3 separate regions of the Homo sapiens genome follow, and all the other regions are linked to region 3. Evidence: fine-mapped expression QTL. A gene starts in region 3. Each other region holds a variant in brackets. All regions are shown on one strand. Distances are between the middles of the regions. Region 1 overlaps ZNF667-AS1 (ZNF667 antisense RNA 1). Region 2 overlaps ZNF470-DT (ZNF470 divergent transcript). Region 3 holds the start of ZFP28 (ZFP28 zinc finger protein).

The links. PIP is the estimated chance that this variant, and not a neighbour inherited with it, causes the effect.
Region 1: its variant is the best candidate, but not a certain one, in a credible set for the expression of ZFP28 in sun-exposed skin (GTEx, PIP 0.78).
Region 2: its variant is the best candidate, but not a certain one, in a credible set for the expression of ZFP28 in whole blood (TOPMed, PIP 0.85).

Annotation. Positions count from the first base shown.
Region 1 is chr19:56,492,887-56,501,069 of GRCh38, reverse strand. ZNF667-AS1 (ZNF667 antisense RNA 1) reads right to left here. Exons shown (of 2, transcript NR_036521.1): 2 at 5,633-6,907. All of the region lies in intron 2 of LOC124904776 (a long non-coding RNA gene), which reads left to right. Among named protein-coding and RNA genes, the nearest start is that of ZNF471, 11 kb to the left of the region's middle. The variant G/A (reference allele first, on the strand shown) is at 4,305.
Region 2 is chr19:56,557,223-56,565,405 of GRCh38, reverse strand. All of the region lies in intron 1 of ZNF470-DT (ZNF470 divergent transcript), which reads left to right. Among named protein-coding and RNA genes, the nearest start is that of ZNF470, 6.2 kb to the left of the region's middle. The variant T/G (reference allele first, on the strand shown) is at 4,231.
Region 3 is chr19:56,534,823-56,543,005 of GRCh38, reverse strand. ZFP28 (ZFP28 zinc finger protein) reads right to left here and starts at 4,058. Exons shown (of 8, transcript NM_020828.2): 1 at 3,780-4,058; 2 at 3,290-3,381. The coding sequence starts at 3,987. It overlaps ZFP28-DT (ZFP28 divergent transcript), which reads left to right and starts at 4,272. Exons shown (of 3, transcript NR_183967.1): 1 at 4,272-4,581; 2 at 5,269-5,355; 3 at 6,674-6,850.

The sequences.
Region 1 (8,183 bases), 42 kb after region 3:
CAATAATATCTAAGTAATAAGATTCCTCGGGACATGACCCTCCAGCCACATTCATCTGAAGAGAGTACAGATGTGAGGGGGAAAACTCCTGATAACATGTGCTGTCCCAAAGGTTTGTGTGAGTGGAGGATAAACTAAAGATACGTGTTTGCTGCAGTTAAGTACATCATTTTCTGGCATAGCAGAGAGTAGCCAGATTCACAGCAGAAACGACAAAGTCATTGACTCTAAATTAGAGGACACTTAAGTTTAGCTCCTACATTGCTACCTGCATTCTCTTCACAATTCACAATCTATTTCATCACAGACAGAGGTGAGACTCATCTTCAATACTGTATCTCACACAACACCCACTGCTCTGTATCAAGGCTGTAAAGGCAGAATTCCATTTCTCATGCAAATGAGGGAAACAGGAAAAGAATACACGTGTGTAAACGGTAAGTAATACTGTTCAAGACAATTGCAATGGGGGAGAGACAGTGAACTCAACTCCCCAATATAGCAACAACAGTTGGTTTTGTAGCCAACTATAAGAGTAAGGGGGTCAATGGGTGGGAAATCACAAACAGGAACTTGATTAGGTATTAAGGGTAGAATCCTGCTAAAGGCAGGCCAAGGACTTAGACATTAAGGGTGGAAGATGAGGAACCTGATCAAGGATAAGGGAATTCTCACTAAACCTACTTAACAGGATTCTTGCTAAAACTGGGTGCAGCAAGGATGGACACAGAAATCCAAGGTCCAGGCCTACTCAAGAAGAGGGCTCAGGGAAGCCTAAGAAAAGTCTGGTCAAGGAGAGGTCTGGGGCTCAGGAGGACTTACCAGTTCCACCGGAGGAGAAGCTTGAACTCAGTGGGACTTCAATGGGCCCCTGCTGGTACCTTAGCTCCGGTTTCAGGCAACTCCTTAGGGGTCCTGAGTCTTCTCTGAGGCCCCACGTTTGGGCGCCAGATTATTGTTGACGAAGAGTCAAACTCTGTAAAATATTTTAAGAGATTTATTCTGAGCCAAATATGAGTGACCATGGCCCGTGACACCGCCCTCAGGAAGTCTTGAGAACATGTGCCCAAGGTGGTTGAGGTACAGCTTGGTTTCATAGATTTTTAGGGATGCATGAGACATCAATCAAATACATTTAGGAAATACATTGTTTAGGTTCAGAAAGGCAGGACAATTCAGAGTGGTGGCTTCCAGGCTATAGGTAAATTTAAACATTTTCTGGTTGACAATTGGTTGAGTTTATCTGAACACCTGGGATCAATAGAAAGGAATGTTCAGGATAACATAAAGGATTGTGGAGGCCAAATTTTATTGTGCAGAGGAAGTTCTCAGCAGACTTGAGAGAGAGAGCAGGTTGTAAAATGTTTCTTATCAAGCCCAAAAGGGTACCTGGCTCTTAGTTGATTATCTCCTGGATCTGGAAAGAAATGAAGGAAAACAAGGGGGAAAGGAGATTCTCTATAGGATGTGGATTTTTCCCAAAAGAGACTTAGCAGGGCAGTTTCAAGGTATGGCAAGGAAATATATTTTGGGGTTAAATATTTTTTTCCTGGTCTCATAATGTTATGCCAGAGTTATACTGAAAAGTAACTCGTGATGCGTAGGGCCAGACAAAACCCATCTGATGAGAATTTATAGTTTGTAGGGCATGACTCCTTAGACCCCTTAGGTAGGAATTTGGGCAACATAAAAATATCAGAGCTTAGTCCTCATAGCATAGCATAAAAGTCTAGTTCTTTTTTTTTTTTTTTTTTTTTTTTTTTTGAGACAGAGTCTCCCTCTGTCGCCCAGGCTGGAGTGCAGTGGCACAATCTCAGCTCCCTGAAACCTCCGCCTCCCCAGTTTAAGCAATTCTCCTGCCTCAGCCTCCCTAGTAGCTGGGACTACAGGCACCTGCCACCACACCTGGCTAATTTTTGTATTTTTAGTAGAGATGGGGTTTCACCATGTTGGCCAGGACGGTCTATCTCTTGATCTCGTGATCCACCTGCCTCGGCCTCCCAAAGTGCTGGGATTACAGGTGTGAGCCACTGTGCCCGGCTATTTTTTATTTATTTTATTTTACTTTATTATTATTATTATTTTTTGAGATGTAGTCGCGCTCTGTCGCCCAGGCTGGAGTGCAGTGGCACGATCTTGGCTCACTGCAACCTCTGCCTCCCGGGTTCAAGCCATTCTCCTGCCTCAGCCTCCTAAGTAGCTGGGACTACAGGAGTGTGCCACCACGCCCAGCTAATTTTTTTGTATTTTTAGTAGAGACAGAGTTTCACTGTGTTAGCCATGGTGGCCTCAATCTCCTGACTTCGTGGTCTGCTCATCTCGGCCTCGCAAAGTGCTGGGATTACAGGCGTGAGCCACCGCGCCTAGCCTATTTTTCACAGTATAAAATTCAGTGGCCTTGTTATAATCAGAGTTATGCAACAGCCACCACAATAGTTGAGAATACTTTAACGACTAAAGAAATCCTACCCACTAGCCATTACTTTTTATTCTCTTCTCTCGCCAGTCCTTGGCAACCACCAATCTAATTCCTCTGTTTATCTATTTGCCTACTCGGGACATTTCATACAAATGAGATCACAATATGTGGTGTTTTGTGTCTGATTTTTTTTTTTTTTTACTTAGCATAATGTCTTCAAGGCGCATCTAGATTGTAGCATGCATCACTATGTCCTTGATTCAACATATCCCACTAAATTAAAGGGTCAGTTTAGAAACTGATTAAGCCTGTTTGAGCCTATAGTTTCCTTGTGTAAACAGATAATGCATCCACAGTGCTTTGTACCATAGAACATGGGTTGATGTGATGGTTAATTTCAGGTATTAACTTGAATGGATTAAGGAATATGTATGTAACTGGTAAACATTACTTCTGGCTGTGTCTTCAGGGTATTACCAGAGGAGATTGGCTTATAAATCAGTGGACTGAGTGGGGAAGATACACCCTCAACATGGGTGAACACCAGGCTTACCTTCATGATCTATAAATAGCCTTCAAATCAATGCTCATCCACATTTCTTTGACTCACTATATATTTAAGTAAATAAAACCTCTTAATTACTTTTGTTCTGCCTTATCAGCTAGTACACATGTGATTTTAGCTGGATGTACAGAATGAGATCAATTGTTTTGTGGGGTCTCTTTTGTGAAAGGGCTGTATATGCAAAGCATTCCCCAACACAGGAGTCAAGAAACCAAAGAATGAGGTAGACAAATCTAGTATGTGCCTGTAATCTCAGCACTTTAGGAGGCTGAGGTGGGAGGATCACTTGAGGTCAAGAGTTTAAGATCAGCCTGGTCTCTTTATTTTCTCATCTCTGCAGAAAATAAGAAAAGTTAGCTGGGCTTGGTGGCGCACCTTGATGGCACACCTCCTGAGTAGTCCCAGCTACTCAGGAGGCTGCAGCTGAAGGATCGCTTGAGCCCAGGAGGTCAAGGCTGCAGTGAGCTATGATGGTGCTACTGCACTCCAGCCTGAGTGACAGAGCAAGACCTTTTCTCAAGAAAAAAAAAAAAGGCATTGGCTAAATCTAATACAGATGATAAGTACCTATAGTTTGTATAGTTGTTCTATCACTTAGATGATATTAGGCACAACAGGGTATATGTCAGCAAATACCTTATTGAATTCCCTGTAGTCTACTGTCACGTGCCCGGTGCTGTCAGATTTCCTTTCCCAGTCACACAGAACTCCTGAAGGGACTCTGGGCTGGCCGACTAATATTAACTTTGGCTAGTTCCTCTATGGTGGCTGTCATTTCTTTTATTCTGCCAAGAAAATAATTTGTTACTTCACACTGATGATACATCATGGGGGAGGAAAAAGTACAGGTGCCTATTTCACTGCCACTCTTTAAATAGTGTTTACCACCCAAACTCATTGGTGGAATTCCCCCATGGACGTTTGCAAAGTGCATCCTTAAAGGATGTCCATATCCAACATGTTTTCTGGAATAGGTGAGATAAAGACAGTATAGTAAGCAGGGAAACTCCACCATCCAATACCAAGAAGGGGAGGAGTTTGTTCCACTTGGATTGTTTGTCCCCAGTAACCATCTAGAGCTGTCCACTTACCAGCGTGTCTCTCTGGGCTTCCAAGAACTAAGGTGCACTCTGCACCTGTGTCCACTACAACTAGTGTCCTCTGCATGTGTTTTTCAACTCTGATATTGTGAGCTCCACATGGAGCCTCTAGTCACCCTCTACTGCTCATCCCTAGAGGCAACCTTGCCCCCCTTCCGCCCCCTCCCACCCCCGCCCCCCGCCCCGCAGTCTGTAGGCTGGATAGGAGTCCAAGGCTGGA[G/A]CAGAGACCGGAGTTCTTTTTTAATACATAGTTTCATCTCCTCCATCCTCCTTTTCTGGCCGGATGCTGGGAAAAGGTCTAAACAGTTGGGCGGGAGTTAAGTCCTTTCAAATGCCCACCAACATGGCATGAGGTTGCTGATTCCGTTTCTTGGTTTATCCCAGCTGAGATCAGATTGTACCACATTTGTTTTCTGGTAATCCTAACTGGGTCTTTTAGACCTCCTTTTTCAAGTCCAACAGACTTGCTATCTCCTTTTCTTTTCCCTTGGTAACCAGTTGGACCTTATCCCTTCCCCTTTCAGTTTCTCCAAGACCAGCTACGGCATCCCGCACATAATATACATCTTGTCCTACAAGGGGACAACTGCAACTGCTGGTCATAGATGGCCTGCTGCATACCCAGCTCCCCTGAATTGCTCTGTGCCTCCTCCAGAGACCACCATGCCAGTGTCTGACCTGGGAAGTCCCCTTCACTGGGCCTCTCGCATAGCCACACCACCATCCATGTGGCTATGCTGTCTCTTGGCAGCTGCTTTAAGAGTTCTTGCTGTGTCCAATAGTTCTGCTGAGGTGTACTCTCAGAGTTAAGCTTTGCTGTGAAAAGACTGCTTGCTATTGTACAGCTGTATCTGTTGGGTTTTGTTTTCCTCCTGCCCTCAAAAGGGGAGGACAATCCTCCTACTCTGAGATAACCTCTGTCTTCATCTGACTCACAAGTCGATTCCCAAGGATTCCAGGTCTCAGCATCTTGGTCTGGTCTAGCAAGGACAGCTCACACTTGCAACCAGTGCAGTTTTTGTCCTCGCAGCTGCATAAAAGCGGCAGACAACAGTTTCCACCTGCACCTCCTGAGTTTCAAGCTTATGCACCAAATTAGATGCTAACACAGATGTGGAGATCCTCATATCCTTCTCTAACTGTAATTACTTCTCTAGCTTCTGTACCTTTGTCTCGGTTGCTAACTGTACTTCTGGGGTCACATGTGCAACCCATAATAGCGGCCACCCCTCTGTTGCCACCTTCAGGGACCTTCAGTGCATGGTGTGGTTTTCTTCTCACAAGCACTCTAGACCCTGTAGTGTTCTGGGCCATCCCCGTACTCAGGCGGTGGTCTGCAGGCATCCAGCAAACGGGCAATATCACCCCACACACACAGAGGGCTGCCCCAAGACTTCCCCAACTGAGGCTTCCTTCCCTTGCCCATACTTTGGCTCCTGAATTCCTCCTGGCTAGCTCACCAACAGTTTCATGAAAGAACCACATAGGGAAAGCAAATCCATACCAAAAAGGAACCAAGAAACCAAAGAATAAGGAAGACAAATCCAGTTTGTCAGTAGAAGGTGATTTATTGGAAAGTTTAGAAACATGTGGCAACAAGACAGGTAGATCTCTGCACTGTTACTCCCCAGACCGAGAGCTTACATACCATATAGAAAGAGCATAAGTGCTTCAGAAGGAATGTGTAGGATCGCTGAAATTGACCCCTCAGGGAAAGGCAAGAATGCTGTGTCTCATAGCCCATAATTTGCCAAAGGACAGGACTTAGGTAAGTACATGTTTATGATAACATCAAGGTTGTCTTGGCTTACACAAGCAACAGTAAGTAAAGTAGAAATCTTGAGGCATTCCTGGGCCTGGGGTTAATCAGAAGTCAACATGGCAGATTAGCATCCAAGATGAAGTGGCATCATCCTGCACAGTGTCCAACGTTGTACACTTGATTAGGAGGGAATAAACGAGATTGAGCACTAGGAGCAACAGTGGCAGGACACCCAACAGCCCAAAGTTGGAAGGAGCACAAGTGTTCACTGATGGATGAATGGATAAACAGAATGTGATCTAAACATACCATGAAATATTATCCAGCCTTTAAAAGGGGAGGAAGTTCTGATGCATGCTACAACATGAATGAACCTTGAGGACATTATACAAGTGAAATAAGCCAGGCAGAGAAGGATAAATGCTGTATGATTCTACTCATATGAGGTACCTAGAGTAGTCAAACTGATAGAGAAAGTAGAATGTTGGTTGCTAGGAGCTGTGGGGATGGGAAGATGGGAAGTCGTTTAATGGGTAGAGTTTCAGATCTGCAAGATGAAAAGGGTTCTAGTGATGGATGGTAGTGATGGCTTGCACCACAATGTGAATGTACTTTACTAACTGCACATTTCAACATGGTTAAGATAGCAAATTTTCATTGTGTTTTTTACCAGAATTTAAAAAGAAAAAAAGGGTTTTTTGTTTTTGTTTTTTTCAAAAAAGTCACAGGACAAAACAAGGTGAGAATGGTCTCATGAAAACCAAAGATATAGAGTGTTTCTAGAATGAAGGATTCATTGAATGCTGCTAAGAAAAAGATGAGATGAGGAATGAAAACATCAGGGGGACTAATGAACAGGGGCACTACTGCTGAAACCATACAGTGTCTTTAAGATGCAGAAGTAGGGTTGAAACCACACTGAAGTAGGTGACACTCTCTTCTTCCTTATCCGGGAATGAGTTGGTTGTTGGTGATCATCAGTCTGATCCACTCCAAGAGAGATCGTAGCAGGGTCCAGTCTGTGCTCTCCTGCGATCATTCGCCATGACTAGAAGTTAAAACTGGGCAAGAACATGTAGACAGTCAGAAAGGCTCATGCTTCTACTGCTCTCCCCTCCCCATTCAGGTCTTCTCCAAGTCATTAATTCCAAGGCCAAGGTGAGTTAATAATGGAATGTCCACCAGGCATGGTGCTCACGCCTGTAATCCCAGCACTTTGGGAGGCCGAGGTGTGCAGATCACGAGGTCAGGAGATCGAGACCATCCTGGCTAGCATGGTAAAACCCCATTTCTACTAAAAATACAAAAAAATTAGCCGGGTGTGGTGGCACAGCTACTTGGTGGGCTGAGGCAGGAGAATCGCTTGAACCCAGAAGGCGGAGGTTGCAGTGAGCCGAGATTGCGCCACTGCACTCCAGCCTGCATAACAGAGTGAGACTCCGTCTCAAAAAAAAAAAAAAAAGAATGTCCATGTGGACTACTTTTCTGACTGCCCTCAATATCTTTGTTTTAGAAACAAACTTAAAATGTGATTCAGTAAAGTAAGCAGATTAGAAAATCTTGTTCTAAGCTACAATGTCATATACAAGAGAATCTGCCTGGTATTGCCCCAGAGAATATTCAGTCTTCAGTTTTATAAATCCTGGCTGCACCCTCAACACAGAGGCACCCAATGTTGACAAGCCCATGTGGGAAGCACCTCAATTATAAGCCAGTACCTCTATTTGAGAGGAAATATAGGTTTGGTACTCACATGTGAAACCCAATTGGGTTTTTCTAACCATGATATTACCTATTCAGACCATGTCTTTCCCAGCTGAAAGGACTCAGATGCATCATTTCAGGAGCTCTACATAAAACCTCTAGCATTGAGTGACCCTGTGCTATAAAATGTGAATGTGTACTCATCATAGATTATAGTTTAAATCATATGGCATTAAAACCATCAAAACTGTATGAAACTCCCTTGAAGCATCTTAGGTGATGTGGTAGTAGCAGTATTATCAAGATATTATAGGCCAGGTGTGATGGCTCACACCTGTAATCCCAGTACTTTGGGAGGCCAAGGTGGGCAGATCACCTGAGGTCAGGAGTTTGAGACCAGCCTGGCCAACATGATGAAACCCCATCTCTATGAAAAATACAAAAATTAGCAGGGCATGGTGGCACATGCCTGTAATCCCAGCTACCCGGGAGGTTGAGGCAGGAGAATCGCTTGAACCTGGGAGGCAGAGGTTGCAGTGAGCCGAGATCACGGCACTGCACTCCAGCCTAGGCAACAGATAGAGACTCCATCTCAAGAAAAGGAAAAAAAAAAAAAAGGTATTACAGTATTAT
Region 2 (8,183 bases), 22 kb before region 3:
TACCTCACTGCCACACTAATGGGGCTCTGGTCAATAACAGTAGATTACAACAGAGAAAACTGCAAGGCACAGACTCTATTTAAGAAGGAGTTCTTAGGGAAGCCCACAGAAGGAGAAGCATCTTGGAAAAAGTAGACAACATGCAAGAACAGATGGGTAATGTAAGCAGAGAGATGCAAACTGTAAGAAGGAATCAAAAGGAAATCCTAGCAATTGAAAACCATTGTAACAGACATGAAGATTACCTTTAGTGAGCCCCTCAGACTAAGACACTCTGAGAAATGAATGGGTGAGCTTGAAGATATGTTAATAGAAATTTCCCAAACTGAAATACAAAGAGGAAAAAAAAAGAATGAAAAAAGAAAAAGAACAGAATATCCAAGAACCATGGGACAATTACAGAAGGTGAAATATATGCGTAACTGGAATACCAGGAGGGGAAGAGAGAAAGGAGAGAAAATATTTGAATAATGACTGAGAATTTTCTAAAATTAATGACAGGACACCAGGCCAGTGTGGTGGCTCATGCCTGTGATACATACCAGCACTTTGGGGGGCCAAAGTGGGAGGATTGCTTGAGCCCAGGAGATTGAGACCAGCCTGGGCAACATAGTGAGACCCCATCTTTAAAAAAATACAAAAATTAGCCGGGTGTGGTGCTGTGTAATTGTAGTCCCAACTACTCGAGAAGCTGAGGTGGGAGGATTGCTTGAGCAAGCCATTATCCTGCCACTGCACTCCCTCCTGGGCAACAAAGCAAGACCTTGTCTCTAAAAGCAAGAAAACAAACACCAAACCACAGATCTAGGAAGATCAGAGAACACAAAGCATTATCACAAGTCACCTTTTGACATTATCACCAGCACTATTCAGTCCTTTTAATTTCTTTCAATCCTTTTTGTTTCAGATTAAATAATTTCTATCTATATTCAACTTCATTAACTATTCTGCCACCTCAAATTTCCTGTTAAACCTATCCAGTGGATTTTTACTTTCAAACATTGTATTTCTTAGTTTTAGAATTCCCATTTTCAAACTGATTTACTCATTTGCTGAAATTCCCATCTGCTCATCCATTAATAGCATTTTCCTTTATGTCATTCAGAATAATTATAATAGGGGCTTTATCATTCTTGTTTGCTAATACCAGTGTTTAAGGATTTGTATTGCTTTCTTCTCTTGAATGTGGCTTATGTTTTCACATATCTAATAATTCTTACTCTATGAGTAACACACTGTAGAGACTCTGTTGTCTCTACAGACAAAAAGTCCGTCTGAATTTTGTTTTTAGTAGGCAGTTCACTGTGTTGAACTCAATCTCCAACTCTTGTCTCACTGAGACAGGTAATGCTAAAGCCTTTGTTGGGATGCTTGGAGTTTGTCCAATACTTGTATAGAAAAGGGACTGTCCAGAAATTTTGGGTCTTAAGTGCTGGTGAAGGCTAAAAGGATAGTGAGAAATACTCCATTAAAAACTGGAGGAAAGAGGGTCCTTGTTATGTAATGGCAGAAAGTTTAGCAGCCTGTTATTTGCAGCTAATGCAGGAAGAAGAACTGGGTGACGTAGCTAAGATTTTCAAGGAATGTGCTGAATGTCCTGTTGCTGTTGTTTTCTTGCTGCTTACAGAAACATGCAAAAGAAGAGATATAAATTGAGGGAATAACTGTTAACAAAGAGGACATTAGGATTTTGAAAATTCTTAGCCTCTGTAGGTGGCAAACAATGCCAAAAACAAGAAAGGGCTTCCAAGCAAAAATGAAATCCAAGTTACTGCTAGGAAAACTGGTCTAGATAAAAACTAAGGGCATGGCTGTAAAATCCAGAACCTCAGAAAGACCAAAGCTGGTATCTCAGTACTATTTAACCACACAAAAGCTCTGTAAAGAGATTAAGGCGACCTGACAGACACTCTTATTCAAATAATTAGGCCTCTAAGAAGCTTATCTCAAAGAGATTTGTGGCTGTGGCTTTTGTCTTGTGCAGTGAACCCCAATGAGGTTCTCATGAAGCCCACAACATTTTCAGAAGACTCAGTAGAAACTCTGCCAACTGGAGTGAGAGGGACAGAGACAGCACAAAATGAAGAGACGCCACTAGATTCCTAAAACTCTAGTAAGCAAGCTAAGAAAGCTATTGATAGCATTTGGAGAGATACCTAATGTTAAATGACGAGTTACTGGGTGCAGCACACCAATATGGCACATGTATACATATGTAACTAACCTGCACGTTGTGCACATATACCCTAAAACTTAAAGTATAATAATAAAAAAAAAGCTATTGAACTGCAAATGCGTTGCAGGAAAAAAGGATTCAGAGGGCAGAACCAAGAGTTCAGATGGTGGATAATTATCCCAGGCCATGTGACCTAATAAAGGAATTTCCAAACATTTGTCTGGTTAGATTTCAGAATTGCTATGGAGCAGTGATTCCACTGTATCGGTTAGGGGTGGTGGAGGAGGGGAGACAGATAACTTGTTCTTTATTTTCTTTAAGTCTAAAGGTCTGCAGATCAATACCCATACTTAAGAAAGTATATCTTATGGGCTTCATTAGCACCTGTACCTATGTTAGATGACAAGATTATTGACTTTGAGGTGATCCTGTAATGAGGTGAGACTCTGAGAGGGGCCTTGGAAGGAGTGAGTGTATTCTGCATCTGGAAGGGAAATGAATCACTGGGAGGTGGGGACGGAGGAAGACTGTGGTGGACAGCCATTACGATGTCTCTCAAAGTTCCCCACCTCCTCTTACTCAAACTATTTTGTAATCCCCTCCCCTTGAAGGTAGGCTAAACCTAGTGACTCCTAATTAACCAAATACAAAGATGAGGGGATATCACTTCTAATATTAGGTTACAAAAGGACTTCATCTTCTATCTTGGGCATCCTCTCCTGCTCACTCACTTTTCAAGGAAGCCACTTGCCATATTGTAAGCTGCCCTACAGAGAGGCCCACATGGAAAGGAACCAACATGTCCAGCCAAAGCCTGTAGGGAACTGAGTCCTGCCCACTTACTTGAGCTTGAAAGCTGATTATCCTCTAACAAAATCTTCAGATGACTGCAGCACTGGCCCACAGCTAAGACTGTAGCCATCTGAGAGACCTTGAGCCAGAGGCACCCAACTAAGCTGTGCCTAGATTCCTTCCCCAAAGAAACTGAGGTAATGAACGTCTATCTGTTTTCAGCCACTAAGGTTTGGGGATAATTTGTTACAACAACAGGCAACTAACACGCCATCACAGTTCCTACTCTATAACTCAGGGAAAATAGGAATTCTATCATTAGTCAAAGGTATTATATTGATTAGAATTATAGTAGCTGCTATTACAATTGAAATCCAAATATCATTACCTTAACACAATATAAGTTTATTTCTCACTCATATAATAATCCATTGCTGGTGTTCCTTGATGACTGGGGAGCTTTCCTCCAAATAGTGGTTTAGGGACACAGAGTTCTATCTTTCAGCTTTGCCATTCCATATGATTAAGATTCTACTTCCGTCTGGACAGAACATCCTTTTCTTAAAAACCAAGCCCTGAGTGCCATATTGCTTCTATTCACACCACACTGAAGAAAATTCATCTGATAGACAAAACTGGAAGCAAAGGTGCCTGGGCAGACACATCCCAGGATCAATTCCAGACAATAGAAAAGAACACAAACTTTTGGTGGTCATCTAGTCACATCTCATATCATAGATATCATTAACAAATGCACACCCAGGACCTGGAAAAATAGCCACAGTATGCATTTGTGGTCTCAATAGACCTTGTTCTAAGCTACGCTTGTATAAGAATTCTTCCATAAGCCCTCACTCTGCATAAATGCAAGTCTTTTTCGAATTCCCATGGAATTGTTCATAGAAATTTTAATTACAGTCATTCAGACTCCTGAATGACCCAGTCCTGTGCCACTGATTTAAGTCAATGTGAGATTTGGATGCCATGCCATGGAGTGTTTTTAATTAAAATAAAACCTTAGTGCAGTTTCAACGCTGGGGATCAATTATTAATTACAGTGGAAATATCAGAAATCAGAACACTCTAGAGTTCTGAGGTTTGTTATAACCTTTTTACTTTCTTCTCATAGTTAATGATTGCCCTATAATCCAGCCACTACACATGCCACAGTTCTACACAAATCGGATACCCTTTTCAAATGTAATCACTCATGAAAAGTCTCTGCACCTAAAGGTGGAGATATAGGGACATTTTTCAGTGCT[T/G]CTTTCATGTCAAAGGAATATGGAAAGGCTATTGGGCCCTGATGGGAACTTGCAGATGAGTGAAGGGCATGGACATAAATGATCCAATCCAGCATTATAAACTTCTGAATTCTTTCAGTCCATCTATATTACGCAAAGTAATTTCTAACCCTGAAAATACACTTGCAACAATGTTCCCTAGATTTTAGATGTTACAATTAATGAAGGAAATTAAATATTTCTGGGTGAGATTAATCTCTTTCCTAACTTTCTGTATTTCAAACTACAGGTCATACTAAGCTCTGATTTTGGTTACCAGCCAAGCAATAATGGTGACCATGTGAGAAAAGGGACAATCAAGTTTTCAGTCACAGGCTGGGTATGGTGTCTCACACCTGTAATCCCAGCACTTCAGAAGGCCGAGGCAGGCAGATCACTTGAGCCCAGGAGTTCAAGACCAGCCTGGGCAACATGGCACAACTATCCACAAAAAATTTAAAAATTCTGGGTGTGGTGGCACACGCCTGTAGTCTCAGCTACTCGAAGAGGCCGAGGTGGGAGGAACGCTGGAGGCCAGGAGATCAAGGCGGCAGCAAGCCATGATTACATCACTGCTCTCCAGCTTGGGGGATAGCAAGACTCTGAGAAAGAAAAGGAAAGAAAAGAAAAGAAGAAAGGCAGGGGAAAGGAAAGGGAAAGGAAGAAGGAAGGAAGGAAGGTTTGTTTCCAGTCACAAGGGAAGCATGGAGAGGAGAATCAGTGGGGAGGTTGCTTAAGGGTTGAGAGGGAGAGTCAAGGGAGAGTCAAAGTTTTGTAAGATCCTTGAATCCTTCTTGTTAGTCTCATTCCAATAATCCAAATTCCAGTATTTCCCTAATTGCTTAACAGAAGTGACACGGTTGTGAATTCAGTGTGGGGAAAAGAGAGGTCAGACTGTTACTGTGTCTATGTAGAAAGAAGTAGACATAAGAGACTCCATTTTGTTCTGTACTAAGAAAAATTCTGCCTTGAGATGCTGTTAATCTGTAACCCTACCCCCAACCCTGTGCTGGCAGAAACACGTGCTGTGTCGACTCAAGGTTTAATGGATTTAGGGCTATGCAGGATGTGCTTTGTTAAACAAGTGCTTGAAGGCAGCATGCTTGTTAAAAGTCATCACCACTCCCTAATCTCAAGTACCCAGGGACACAAAACACTGCAGAAGGCTGCAGGGACCTCTGCCTAGGAAAGCCAGATATTGTCCAAGGTTTCTCCCCATGTGATAGTCTGAAATATGGCCTTGTGGGAAGGGAAAGACCTGACCGTCCCTGAGCCCGACACCGGTAAAGGGTCTGTGCTGAGGAGGATTATTAAAAGAGGAAGGCCTCTTTGTAGTTAAGAGGAAGGCATCTGTCTCCTGCTCGTCCCTGGGGAATGGAATGTCTTGGTGTAAAACCCGATTGTGTGTTCCATCTACTGAGATAGGAGAAAACCGCCTTAAGGCTGGGGGTGAGACATGCTGGCGGCAATACTGCTGTTTAATGCACCAGATATGTTTGTGTATGTGCATATCAAAGCACAGCACATTTTCTAACCTTGTTTATGACACAGAGACATTTGTTCACGTTTTCCTGCTGACCCTCTCCCCACTATTACCCTATTGTCCTGCCACATCCCCCTCTCTGAGATGGTAGAGATAATGATCAATAAATACTGAGGGAACTCAGAGACCGGTGCAGGCGTGGGTCCTCCGTATGCTGAGTGCTGGTCCCCTGGGCCCACTTTTCTTTCTCTATACTTTGTCTCTGTGTCTCTTTCTTTTCTCAGTCTCTCGTCCCACCCAAGGAAAAACGCCCACAGGTGTGGAGGGGCAGGCCACCCCTTCATTCAGTAAGCATCATTGTTGAGCAAATAACTGCATCTACTGCTGCCTTTTTTAGCAAATACAGCCCCATGCTTAAAAGGAGTATGAGATTCTTCCCAACACAGACATACAGGTACTGATTCAATTCCTTAAGGCCAGAATTTCAAGTAGCCTTGAAATTTTAATTACCCAATTTCATTATAAACAGGTATCATATATACTTTTGGAAGTAGTATTCCTCAATACCTTTGTTTTTGGTAGGAGCTATCCAGACCCTAGTGCACAATGGGCTTAGGATCCTGCTATATCATGAATATCCTTTCACAGCACAAAATAGGATTAGGAATTCATCTGTGCTTTGATCTGTCTCACTGGACATCCATCTTGAATACTCTGCTTCTCTACAGTCTAGTAATCATTCTGTAGTATAAATTTCTGCATTGGCTAGCTCTCTTTGCTTGAGAACCAAAGTATTTGACTCTGACTTAAAATGAGAAATATTAGAATACCAGGTAGTTCACAGACTCAAAGAATTTAACTCAAAACCAAGATGTGAGAAAGCAGGAATCATCTCAATGGATCTCAGTGACAGGTGGAGGAATCCTTAGGTTGCTGCCAAAGGATGACTTAATTCAAACGAATTCCAGCCTAGGAGTCATATCCCACATACTTCACAGCAGGTATAATAAAGGTCCCACCAATCAAAATGAATATTGACTAAAACAAAACATCCATTCTGGCCATACTGGTTCATAAAGCTGAATATTGGCCCTGTTCCTGTCCCTGTGTCTCTAATCAAAATACAGAGAATGAATCTGGTTGTCTTACTTGGAGCATGTGTCACTGACAGTTCATCAGAACAATACAGAATGAAGAAAGGGAAAGTGCCCGCAAAATGCTAGGAAAAGTCTGTGTGTTAAAGACAAAACCAGATTTCAACATAGATACTGAGGCTGTGCATGTGTTTGTATGTACATACACACATATATATTCAGTATTAATTTTGACTCTATGACTAGGTCATTTTACCTGTAAGGTTCTGTAAACCACATATTTCATTAAATATGTTGTAGACGCCACTCCATAGAAGTGTATGTAGAGCTTAACTGCTTTCTACTAATCGCACAACACAGTACTGAATAACTACAATTTAGTCAATCCACTTGGCAGGGCGCTGAATTCTTATTTGTCATAATTGAAACAATTCTACAAGAAAACAATATTTATATCTACCTATTTATTCCAATGGGATAAAATTCCTAGATCTGGAATTACTGTTTGAAAAAAATTCACGTTTATAATGTTGATAGGTCATGCCATCCGAGGAGATAGGGGACGAAGTTACACTGCTAATAGTGATCAAGTACCTGTTTTCCCACACTAATACCATTACTGGATATTATCCAAATTTTATATTGTAATCTACCAAGAGCCAGGAAAATGTGGTTTCATTCATATTCTTCTGATTAATGAGGTTAAGAATTTCACGAATTTTCTTTATCCATTTGGATTCTTCAGGGTGATTCGCCTATCAGTGTGCATGGCAAGTTGTTCCCCACTGCTCTGTATATGTAACAGCATTCTGTTATTTTCTATAAGTTGTATACATTTCCCTTCAACTGTCTTTTACAAGTTTTTGGTGCCTTTCACCATGCTGAAGTTTTAGATCGTTGCATAGCCCAACTTGTTCTCGATTTCTTTATGGCTTCTAGGACTCCATGTCCTACTTGATAATACGTTCCTTTTTTCTACATTTGCCTCTAACATGTTATTTTATGATTAGATATGTCAAATATGATAGTCATATTTCTCTGTAAGGTGTAAATGTGCTTCTAACTTTTTTCTTGGAGAGGGTGGATAACCAATTGTCAAAACATAATTTTCCCGATATTGAAATAATAGTGCCATTATATACTAAAATCTCATATGCAAAGAAATCTATTTCAAAAATTTTGGGGAAGAGTGAGGCAGGAGAATCACTTGAGGCAAGGAGCCCAAGACCAGCCTGGGCAACAAAGCGAGACACAGTCTCTACAAAAAAAATATTTTAAGGTTACAGTGAGCTAGGATCTTAGCACTGCACTCCAGCCTGGATGATAGAGTGAGGCCTCCATCTCTTAAAAAAAAAAAA
Region 3 (8,183 bases):
TCACATAAGCTTAGGAAACCTTAATCCATGAGGCAAGAAAAACTTCTAGGAATGTATTCATACAAAATAATCAGGGGCTGGGCATGGTGGCTCACACCTACAATTCCAGCTCCTTTGGAAGCCAAGGTGGGAGGATTGCTTGAGGCCCGGAGTTTGAGGCTGCAATTATCTATGACTGTGCCACTGTACTCCAGCCTAGGTGACAGAGTGAGACCCTGTCTCTAAAAGCAAAAAAACAAAATAAAAAAATCAGGGACGAAGCACATTTTCAGGTATAAAAATGACTATTCTAACACTATACTAAATATCAAAACACTGGCCACAAGAGAACTTTAAGACTATATTCAAACATTCATCCACCAAATATTTTCTGTATCAGACATTAGGCAAAACTGCCCCAAATCCTTGCCTATGAAGTAAGGAAATGAGACAAGAGAAACTGAGATAAATTAAGTAAAATACATTTGACCTTCGAACAACATGGATCTGGGCTGCAAGGGTCCACCTATATGCAAATTTTTTCAACCAAATGCAGACTGAAAATACAATTATTGTCTGGGCGCGGGGAATCACACCTCTAATCGCAGCAATTTGGTAGCCCAAGGCGGGCGGTTGCCTGAGGCCAGGAGTTCGAGACCAGCCTGGGAAACATGGCAAAACCCCATCTCTACAAAAAATACAAAAATTAGCTGGGCATGGTGGCACATGCCTGTAATTCCAGCTACTTCGGAGGCTGAGATGGGAGCACTGCTTGAGCCTGGGGAGGTCAAGGCTGCAGTGAGCCGTGATGGCACCACTGCACTCCAGCCTGGGTGACAGAGTGAGACCTTGTCTCAAAAAAGATTATTTGTGGTATGGAAAACCTGTGTCCACTGAGGGCTGACTTCTCATATCTGCAGGCTCCACATGGCTGATGAATAAGTGCAAATTTTGGTATACGTGGGATTTCTGTATATAGTATGTTGAAAAGTACTACGAGGGCCAGGCACAGTGGCTCATGGCTGTAATCCCAGCACTTTGGGAGGCTGAGGTGGGCGGATCACTTGAGGTCAGGAAATCGAGACCAGCCTGGCCAACATGGTGAAACCCTGTCTCTAAAAAAAAAAAAAAAAAAAAAAAAAAAAAAAATTAGCCAGGTGTGGTGGCTACTCGGGAGGCTGAGGAAGGAGAATCATTTCAACTCAGGAGGCGGAGGTTGCAGTGAGCCGAGATCACGCCACTGTACTCCAGCCTGAGTGACAGAGCAAAACTCTGTCTCAAAAGAAAAGTACTAAAAGAAAAAAGCAAAGCAGGGAAGAGGGATGTGAAGAACAGGTAGGAGGCTCTGAAATTCTAGACAGGGTGAGCAGGAAAATGAGAAGGCGATTTTTCAGAAAGAAGAGAGTGATGTAGATGTCAGGGGTAACAAGGAGCCAGGTCATGTAGGGCCTGGTCAGTAACAGGAAGAGTTTTGGCTTTTATTCAGAGAAACCACTGGAGGGTCCTGAGCACAGCGTGACACAAGGTGACATGTTTGAATAGACCCCTCTGGCTGCTCATCGGGAAGGGGCTGTGGGGAGCGTGAGCAGAAGCAGGAGGTCACAGAAGCACAGTCAAGAAGCCCACAGTAAAAGGAGGACTTGGACCTGCTGCTGGTGATAGATGTGATGAAAACTGCCAGATTCTGCACATAATTTGCAAATAGAACTGACAGGATTTGCATCAGGACCAAATATGGAAGGAAAAGGCAAGAAATGAGCCAATCATGACAAGGCTTCCGGACTGAGTAACTGAGAGGATGAAACGGCCACTGACTAAGACTCAAACTGTGGGAGGAGCTGGTTTATGGGAGACTCTCAGGACTTCGGGTCTGGACAGGCTGTCTTGAGTTACCCATCAGACACTCAGGCAGAGGAGTGGAGCAGGATACACAGGCCGGCGGCTCAGAGGAGAGGTTTGGGCTCACAATGTGAATCTGGGAGGAGCCACCATGTGGGTAGGTTGTACAGACAAGGAACAGGCTACTATCCCCAGGAGACAGCATGCAGACAAAAAAAGAAAGGGCCATGAGCAGAGTGCTGAGGCACACTCTGTTCAAGTCACGGAGGTAAGAACTGTGGCAAAAACTGAGCAGTCAGGAAGATGAAAGTCAGATGAGTGTGAGATCCCAGTAGCCAAGGGAAAAAAGGGGGCCTATTGAAGGACAGGGATGAGCTATTTGAGGGATAGGTAGCCACCTGTTTTGTAACTGAAGTTTTACTGGAACACAGCCCATCCATTCATTTACATATTGTCTTTGGCTACTTTAGCTCTATAAGAGCAGAAAGGAGTAGATGCAGCAGGACTTTCAAAGCCTAACATATTTTCTGCTGTGGCCTCATCCAGCACAAGTTTGCCAGCCTCTGAGCTATTTCAAATACCAATGATAGTCAAAAAAGACTAAGAATTGAGCACTGCATCTGGTAATGTGAAGATCACAGTAACCCACTCAAGAGCAGTTTGGGTAGGACAACTGGAAGCTGGTTCATCTGTACATATATTTTTTGAGGCCTCAGTGGAAGTGAAATGGTTCATCTATTAATGAGCTAGCTATGATATTTATAGGAGAAGCCAACCGAAACAAACACAACTATTTACTGGCATGTTTTAAAGCCACAAAATCAAGTGGAAAAGCCTTTCATATTGCGCCTCCTCTCCCTAAAATGTTGTCTTTCTTTACTGTGCCTCCCAAACATCTTCTCTCCCTTCAAGGCAAGGCTCAAAAATCACCTCCTTGGTAAATAGGCCTACCCTTCCGCTACAGGAGGCTGGAAGCCAGGAGCGCCTTGTAGTCCTCGCTCATAATACTTGGCCCAAGGATGATCACATTCTAGAATCTTGCTTGTTTCCTTGACATTGGGTCAACAGGCTGTGAGCTCCAGAGCAGGGACTAGGGCTTAGCTATTGGTTTGCTCAGTGGCTGGCACAAAGTGGTCACCAAACAAACCATGTATAGCAGAAGAGTCTGCCGTGTTCCTCAAGGGGCACAATTCCTCCATCAGAGTCCCTCTGAGAAAAGCGGTACAAGGGAGAGGCTGAATCATTTCATCAATCAAGAATGAAGGCTGATTGGGATGAAGAAGAAGCAGGCATCGAGGCCCCGGGCAGTTTAAACTTTTCCCCGTAGCCCATCACTTCACTAGAACGTGAAGAAATAGAAACCCGCGCCCAAACAGGTCTCTTAAACTGAAAACTTTCAAGAAAATAAGCAACATTAAGTCCCGAAAAGCAAGACTGCATTTCAGAGACAAGAGATGAAATGCCAACTCACCTGGGACATGGCTTTAGGTTCAATTCCTGTCCCCACAGCCTCCAGCTTCTTGTTTCTCTCCTGGGGAAGAGCAGTGTCCCTGGAAGGCAGAGCTGAAAGAGAAAGGAGTAGCTAGAGACCAGGTCTACACCACAGTCCCAAATCACCAGCCTAGAAACGTCCCTTCCTGCATGAAAAGGTGGGATCAGATCATTACCCTGCCTAGGGACTGCCACAACGTGGAGATAGGTTTTTTTCCTCCCTGGGAGCACGAAAACAGGAAAAGCGTCTAGTTAGAGTCACCCTGGGAAAGTCAACACCCTTTTACCGCGGCTTGCTGCTCTGAATCAGTTGAGCTTCCAAATCTTCAGATTCTCCCACTCCACCAGCTTCAAAGACCAGGGGCACAGTTCTCCAGCAACTGGTCCCCGAGAGCCCAACCCCCTCCCAGATCTCATCCCGAGATGAATTCGTCCCTGTCCGCTCGGCCCCAAACACCTGTCACTCTCACCTCTGTGCCCAGGCCCCGTAGGGGCCGCTCCTCGCTGGCCTTTGGATGCGAGGCCATTCCTTGAGCGCGGCCTTCCCCGGGCAGGGAGGGCCAAGGTGGCTGGAGTCCCTACAGTCGGGCCTCGGCCCGCCCGGGGCTTTGTGCGGGGGGCGCCTCTACCCGGGAGCGGCGTCGGCTCGCGGACACTCGCGCTCGCCGCCCCCCGCATGTCACCCGAGGCCGCGCGACGCCCTTCCGACCGGTCCCTCACAGACCCACACCCCTGGCCACACCCGCCCGCCACGCCCAGCGAACAGCCCCGCGCGCGCTCCCCCATGGCCCGGCATCCACTGGGCCGCGCCGCGGAGCCGCCCCGCCCCCGGCCGCGCCCCGCCCCTCCCCACCCCTCCCCGCTGCCCCGCCCCGCCCCGCCCCGCCCCGCCCCGCCCCGCCCCGCCCCGCCCCGCCCCGCCCCGCCCCTCAGCCTAGAGAAGCCCGGCGCTTCCCACTTCCAGTGCGCAGGCAGCGCCGCCGGAACCGGGCGTGGCCTCGGCGCAATGCCCGCTGGGAAGCGTAGTCCCAAGCAGGGACGGATGCGGCGGCCCTCGGAGCTCAGGTTGCAAGATACGGTTTGGCCCCGGGCCTATGCAACGCCCGTCCGTCCTGCCCTCTGCGGGTCGCTCTCACTTGTCCCTGGACCGCAGCCGCCGCATAAGTGGTGGCCAACGCTGGGCCTGGGTGTGGCCGGAAGCAGAGGCCGCTCTGACTACACACCCACCCCCCAAAGGCTTCTGGGAGTCGCGCAGGCGCAGCGGCAGACCGGGTGAGGCGGGGCTTGCGGCGAGGGGTGGGACCGCAGGGCCGGAGTAAAAGGGTGCTTGGCTGTGACAGGTGCTAAGGGCCTGGGCGTCAGCTCCTTGCGGGAGCGTCACTGCCGACCGGGAAGGGAAAGGCAATCTTGGGGGCCTCCGGAGTCCGGAGGATCACTCTGATGGGTGATGTGTGTGGGCTAGGAAGGGGGATGTAGAGAGCTTGTGGGATTGTTTTGGGTGCCCCCTCACCTTCTCCCATTATCTCTGGCTACACGGGCCTCCCATCCTCCAAAATACCATTTTCCATTTTGTAACCTATGTATTTGCACGTCCTGGGTCGAAATAGTCTAACCCCAAATTTTCGTCTGGGCTGGCTCCTTTATGCCATTCACTTGTCATCGCCTCAGAGAGGGCTGCCTAACGTCTCAAAAATACCAGCCCTGGCGACCTCTTAAAGTTCCCTTCCTGTGTGAATCACGGTCTGAAGTTAGCTGATGGATTTATTCTTGAACATGTTTAGGACCGGTCTCTCCCCCAGGGGCCTTATCAGAACTGGAGAGCTTCATCCTGGGAGCCAAGGGCCTTGCTGGCTCACAGGCAGTGATGCTGTTACACCAGTCATCACAGATGCACTGACCTCTGCACGCCCAGTCACACTGCACGCCTGGTCTCCTTACTCTTGAATTGATTTCTTTCAGGTCTCCTGGCCTCAGTGATGGAATTAAGATGACTTCTATCTCTGAATCCAAGGGTGACTGAAAGCCGCAAGCTGCAGAAAGGACAAGGTCAGCATTTCTCTCAAAGCACTTCAGTCTCATAGAAAAGGCTTAGTTTCAGTCAGGTGGACCTAGCCATGTAATAGCTGTGGCAGACACTGCTAATGGTCTCTCTGGTGTCTATTTTGCACTCCTTCCACAGCAGAACATTGATGCTCTTCAAGTGGCCATCTGCCCAGCTTATAATACTCACCTCCCCAGTCTCCTTGTAAGGAGTAGTGGCTCTGTAACCAATGAATTTTAAGTACACATTTGCTGGGGGTTTGGTGGATGTGTGGAAAGAGACACAGCTGGCATGTAACTCTGGCCTTTTGTCATCTCACACAACCTTCTTCCTGCTTGGGTATGACACAGGATGTCAACAGGTAGAACAGCTGTAGAGAGCTGGCAAAGGGATCGTGGCCAACTCAACATTCCACTGGAGGCTATATGATCAAACAGCAAACTGTTTATCATGAATGCAGAATGTGGGCAAAGTCGCTTCTGCTCCAGCCACCAGAAGGTTTGCTGAAGGCAATCACTCCCTGGTGTCATGCTCCTTGAGGTTATCTAATGGGACATCTAGAGCCTATTGGTTGACGAATGCAGTCTTGCAAGCCTGCTGTAAATCAAGCTACTGACCGACAACCACCCCCCTTCTCCCTATTCACTCTAATAAATACGAAGGGCTGTAAAGGCTCAGGGCCTGTGTTCACTGGAAGCAAGGAGCCCCCAGACCTCTTCTTCCAAATATACTCTTTTGTCTTTGTCTTTATTCCCATGTTTGTCATCCTTTGTTCAGTCCAACAAGGATAGGGTCCGCTGCAAACAGCCACCTTGGCATCATGAGGATGAAAGTTATGCTAAAGATGGCTTAGCAGAAAAAAAGAGAAATAAACAATCAAAGAAATGGTATTAGAAATGAAAAAGTGGACATAATCACAGAAATTTTTAGAATTTTGCAAATACTGTGATCACCTTATCTCAATATATTTAAAACATATGCAGGGGCTTACCATAGAGAAAATTATAAGTACCAAAACTGACTCAAGAAGAAATGGAAAATCATTAAATAAGTTCTCAGGCTTTTCCATGAATACCAAAGCAATAAATAATCCTTATCCTATAAAACTATACTGGAGAATTTAAAACTAGACACCCTTGATACCAAAACTGGACAAGGACAGTAGGGAAAGAATTTAAGTAGGGAAAGAATTCCAATCTTCAGGGACAACATACACATTAAAATCCTACCTAAAGTGACAATAAACAAAGTCCAGCAATACATAGAAAAATATGTCATGTCCAAGGAAGATATGTCAGAATACTTTCATGTTCTGGAATGTAGAGGCATCACCTATGTGGATAAAGACAGCATCCTGAGTTGATGGAGAAATGGCATAGAAGGAACCAGGTCCTTTGATGACATCATGGAGCAAAGCTGTCTTCTTGCCTTGACCTGCTACCTACCTACATGGGAAGCTGTTACTTGAGAAGGCAATAAAATCTATCTTCTTTATTGACAGAGTTGACAATACCTTTTTTATCTTATTGTAGCAGTCACTTATCCTCAAATGACTGCTATATCCTATTTTCCTATTATATGGGGCTATATGCGTCCTTGTTCATATTTAGCAGAGAAGCAACAGAAGCACACTAAAGAATTATGAAGAAAAATATTTCAATATATCCAAATTTTTAGAGAGCTATAAGAATAATTTCATTATTAAGTTCTCCTGCAGCAGGAAGTTGACAAAATATCTCATCTTAACCACCAGGAGTTACACTGTGCTTTTTTTATAAACCCAAAACTATAGCTTTTTGAAAAACAGAAACCAACAAGAAAGATGAATAATCTCCCGGCTGAATCATTTAGATTAAGCTGATACAACTTATGAACTACTGCCAATCTTCACATTTGCCATATTTATAAATTGTTTTATTAATTTTTTTAAAAATTCAGTATAAAGAGTAATATATACTCACAATAGGCAAAAATAAAATTTATAGCACAAAGAAAGGATGTCATATGCTTAGGTGTCAGATGTTTAACAAACAGAATGTACAACATAATGACATTTGATTTGGGAAATAATACTTAGTCCAATGAATTTAGTTATCCAAGGAATCTACTGATTAAAAATATGAATTTTCTATAAAATCATAATTTCTGATTCTATATTTTTCTCTGGAGAGGTATTTTATGTTTTATGTCCATAGGGCCTTACCACATCATGGGACATAAGTCTTTCCTTAGTCACTCAGGAATAGCCTTGTGATATCTGGCTAAGATGAAGGGCAGTCTACTCCTGTCACTGGGAATTCAGTCAGCTTTCGATGAATCATCTGAGGGTGGAAGAGACACCTGAGCACAAGTTGAGTTTTGTTAGAAAAGACAAAAAGGAGACTGGATGCCAAGCAGGTAACCAACAGTACATACTGCCAAGAAGTTATCACAGGAGTGCCACGGTGGGGAGCCTGTTAATATCATTCACCACTATTAATAAATAAGGATGAAACAGTTCCTGGAATCATCTCAATAGATGATTGAGATAAAATGCAGCTCACACCTGTGATTTTAAAAAGAAAAAGCCTTAGCAAACTAGGAATGGTGGAGAGCTTCCTTACTTGGATAAGAAGATGGAATAAAATTATTATAAACCCCAAATACTTTCATTCAGCTTTGGTTAAAATGGTCTGTCAACATCAGACTGGAAAGCAAAGGTTTCCATAGGTAGTCCTGAAAATGGAAAGCAGTGGCATAGACTTTGTCTTTTATTATAAATAATATTTACTCATAACTTATTATTAATTGGAAAATGGAAAAAAAAAGCCTCAGACCAAGAGGTGAAACCTCA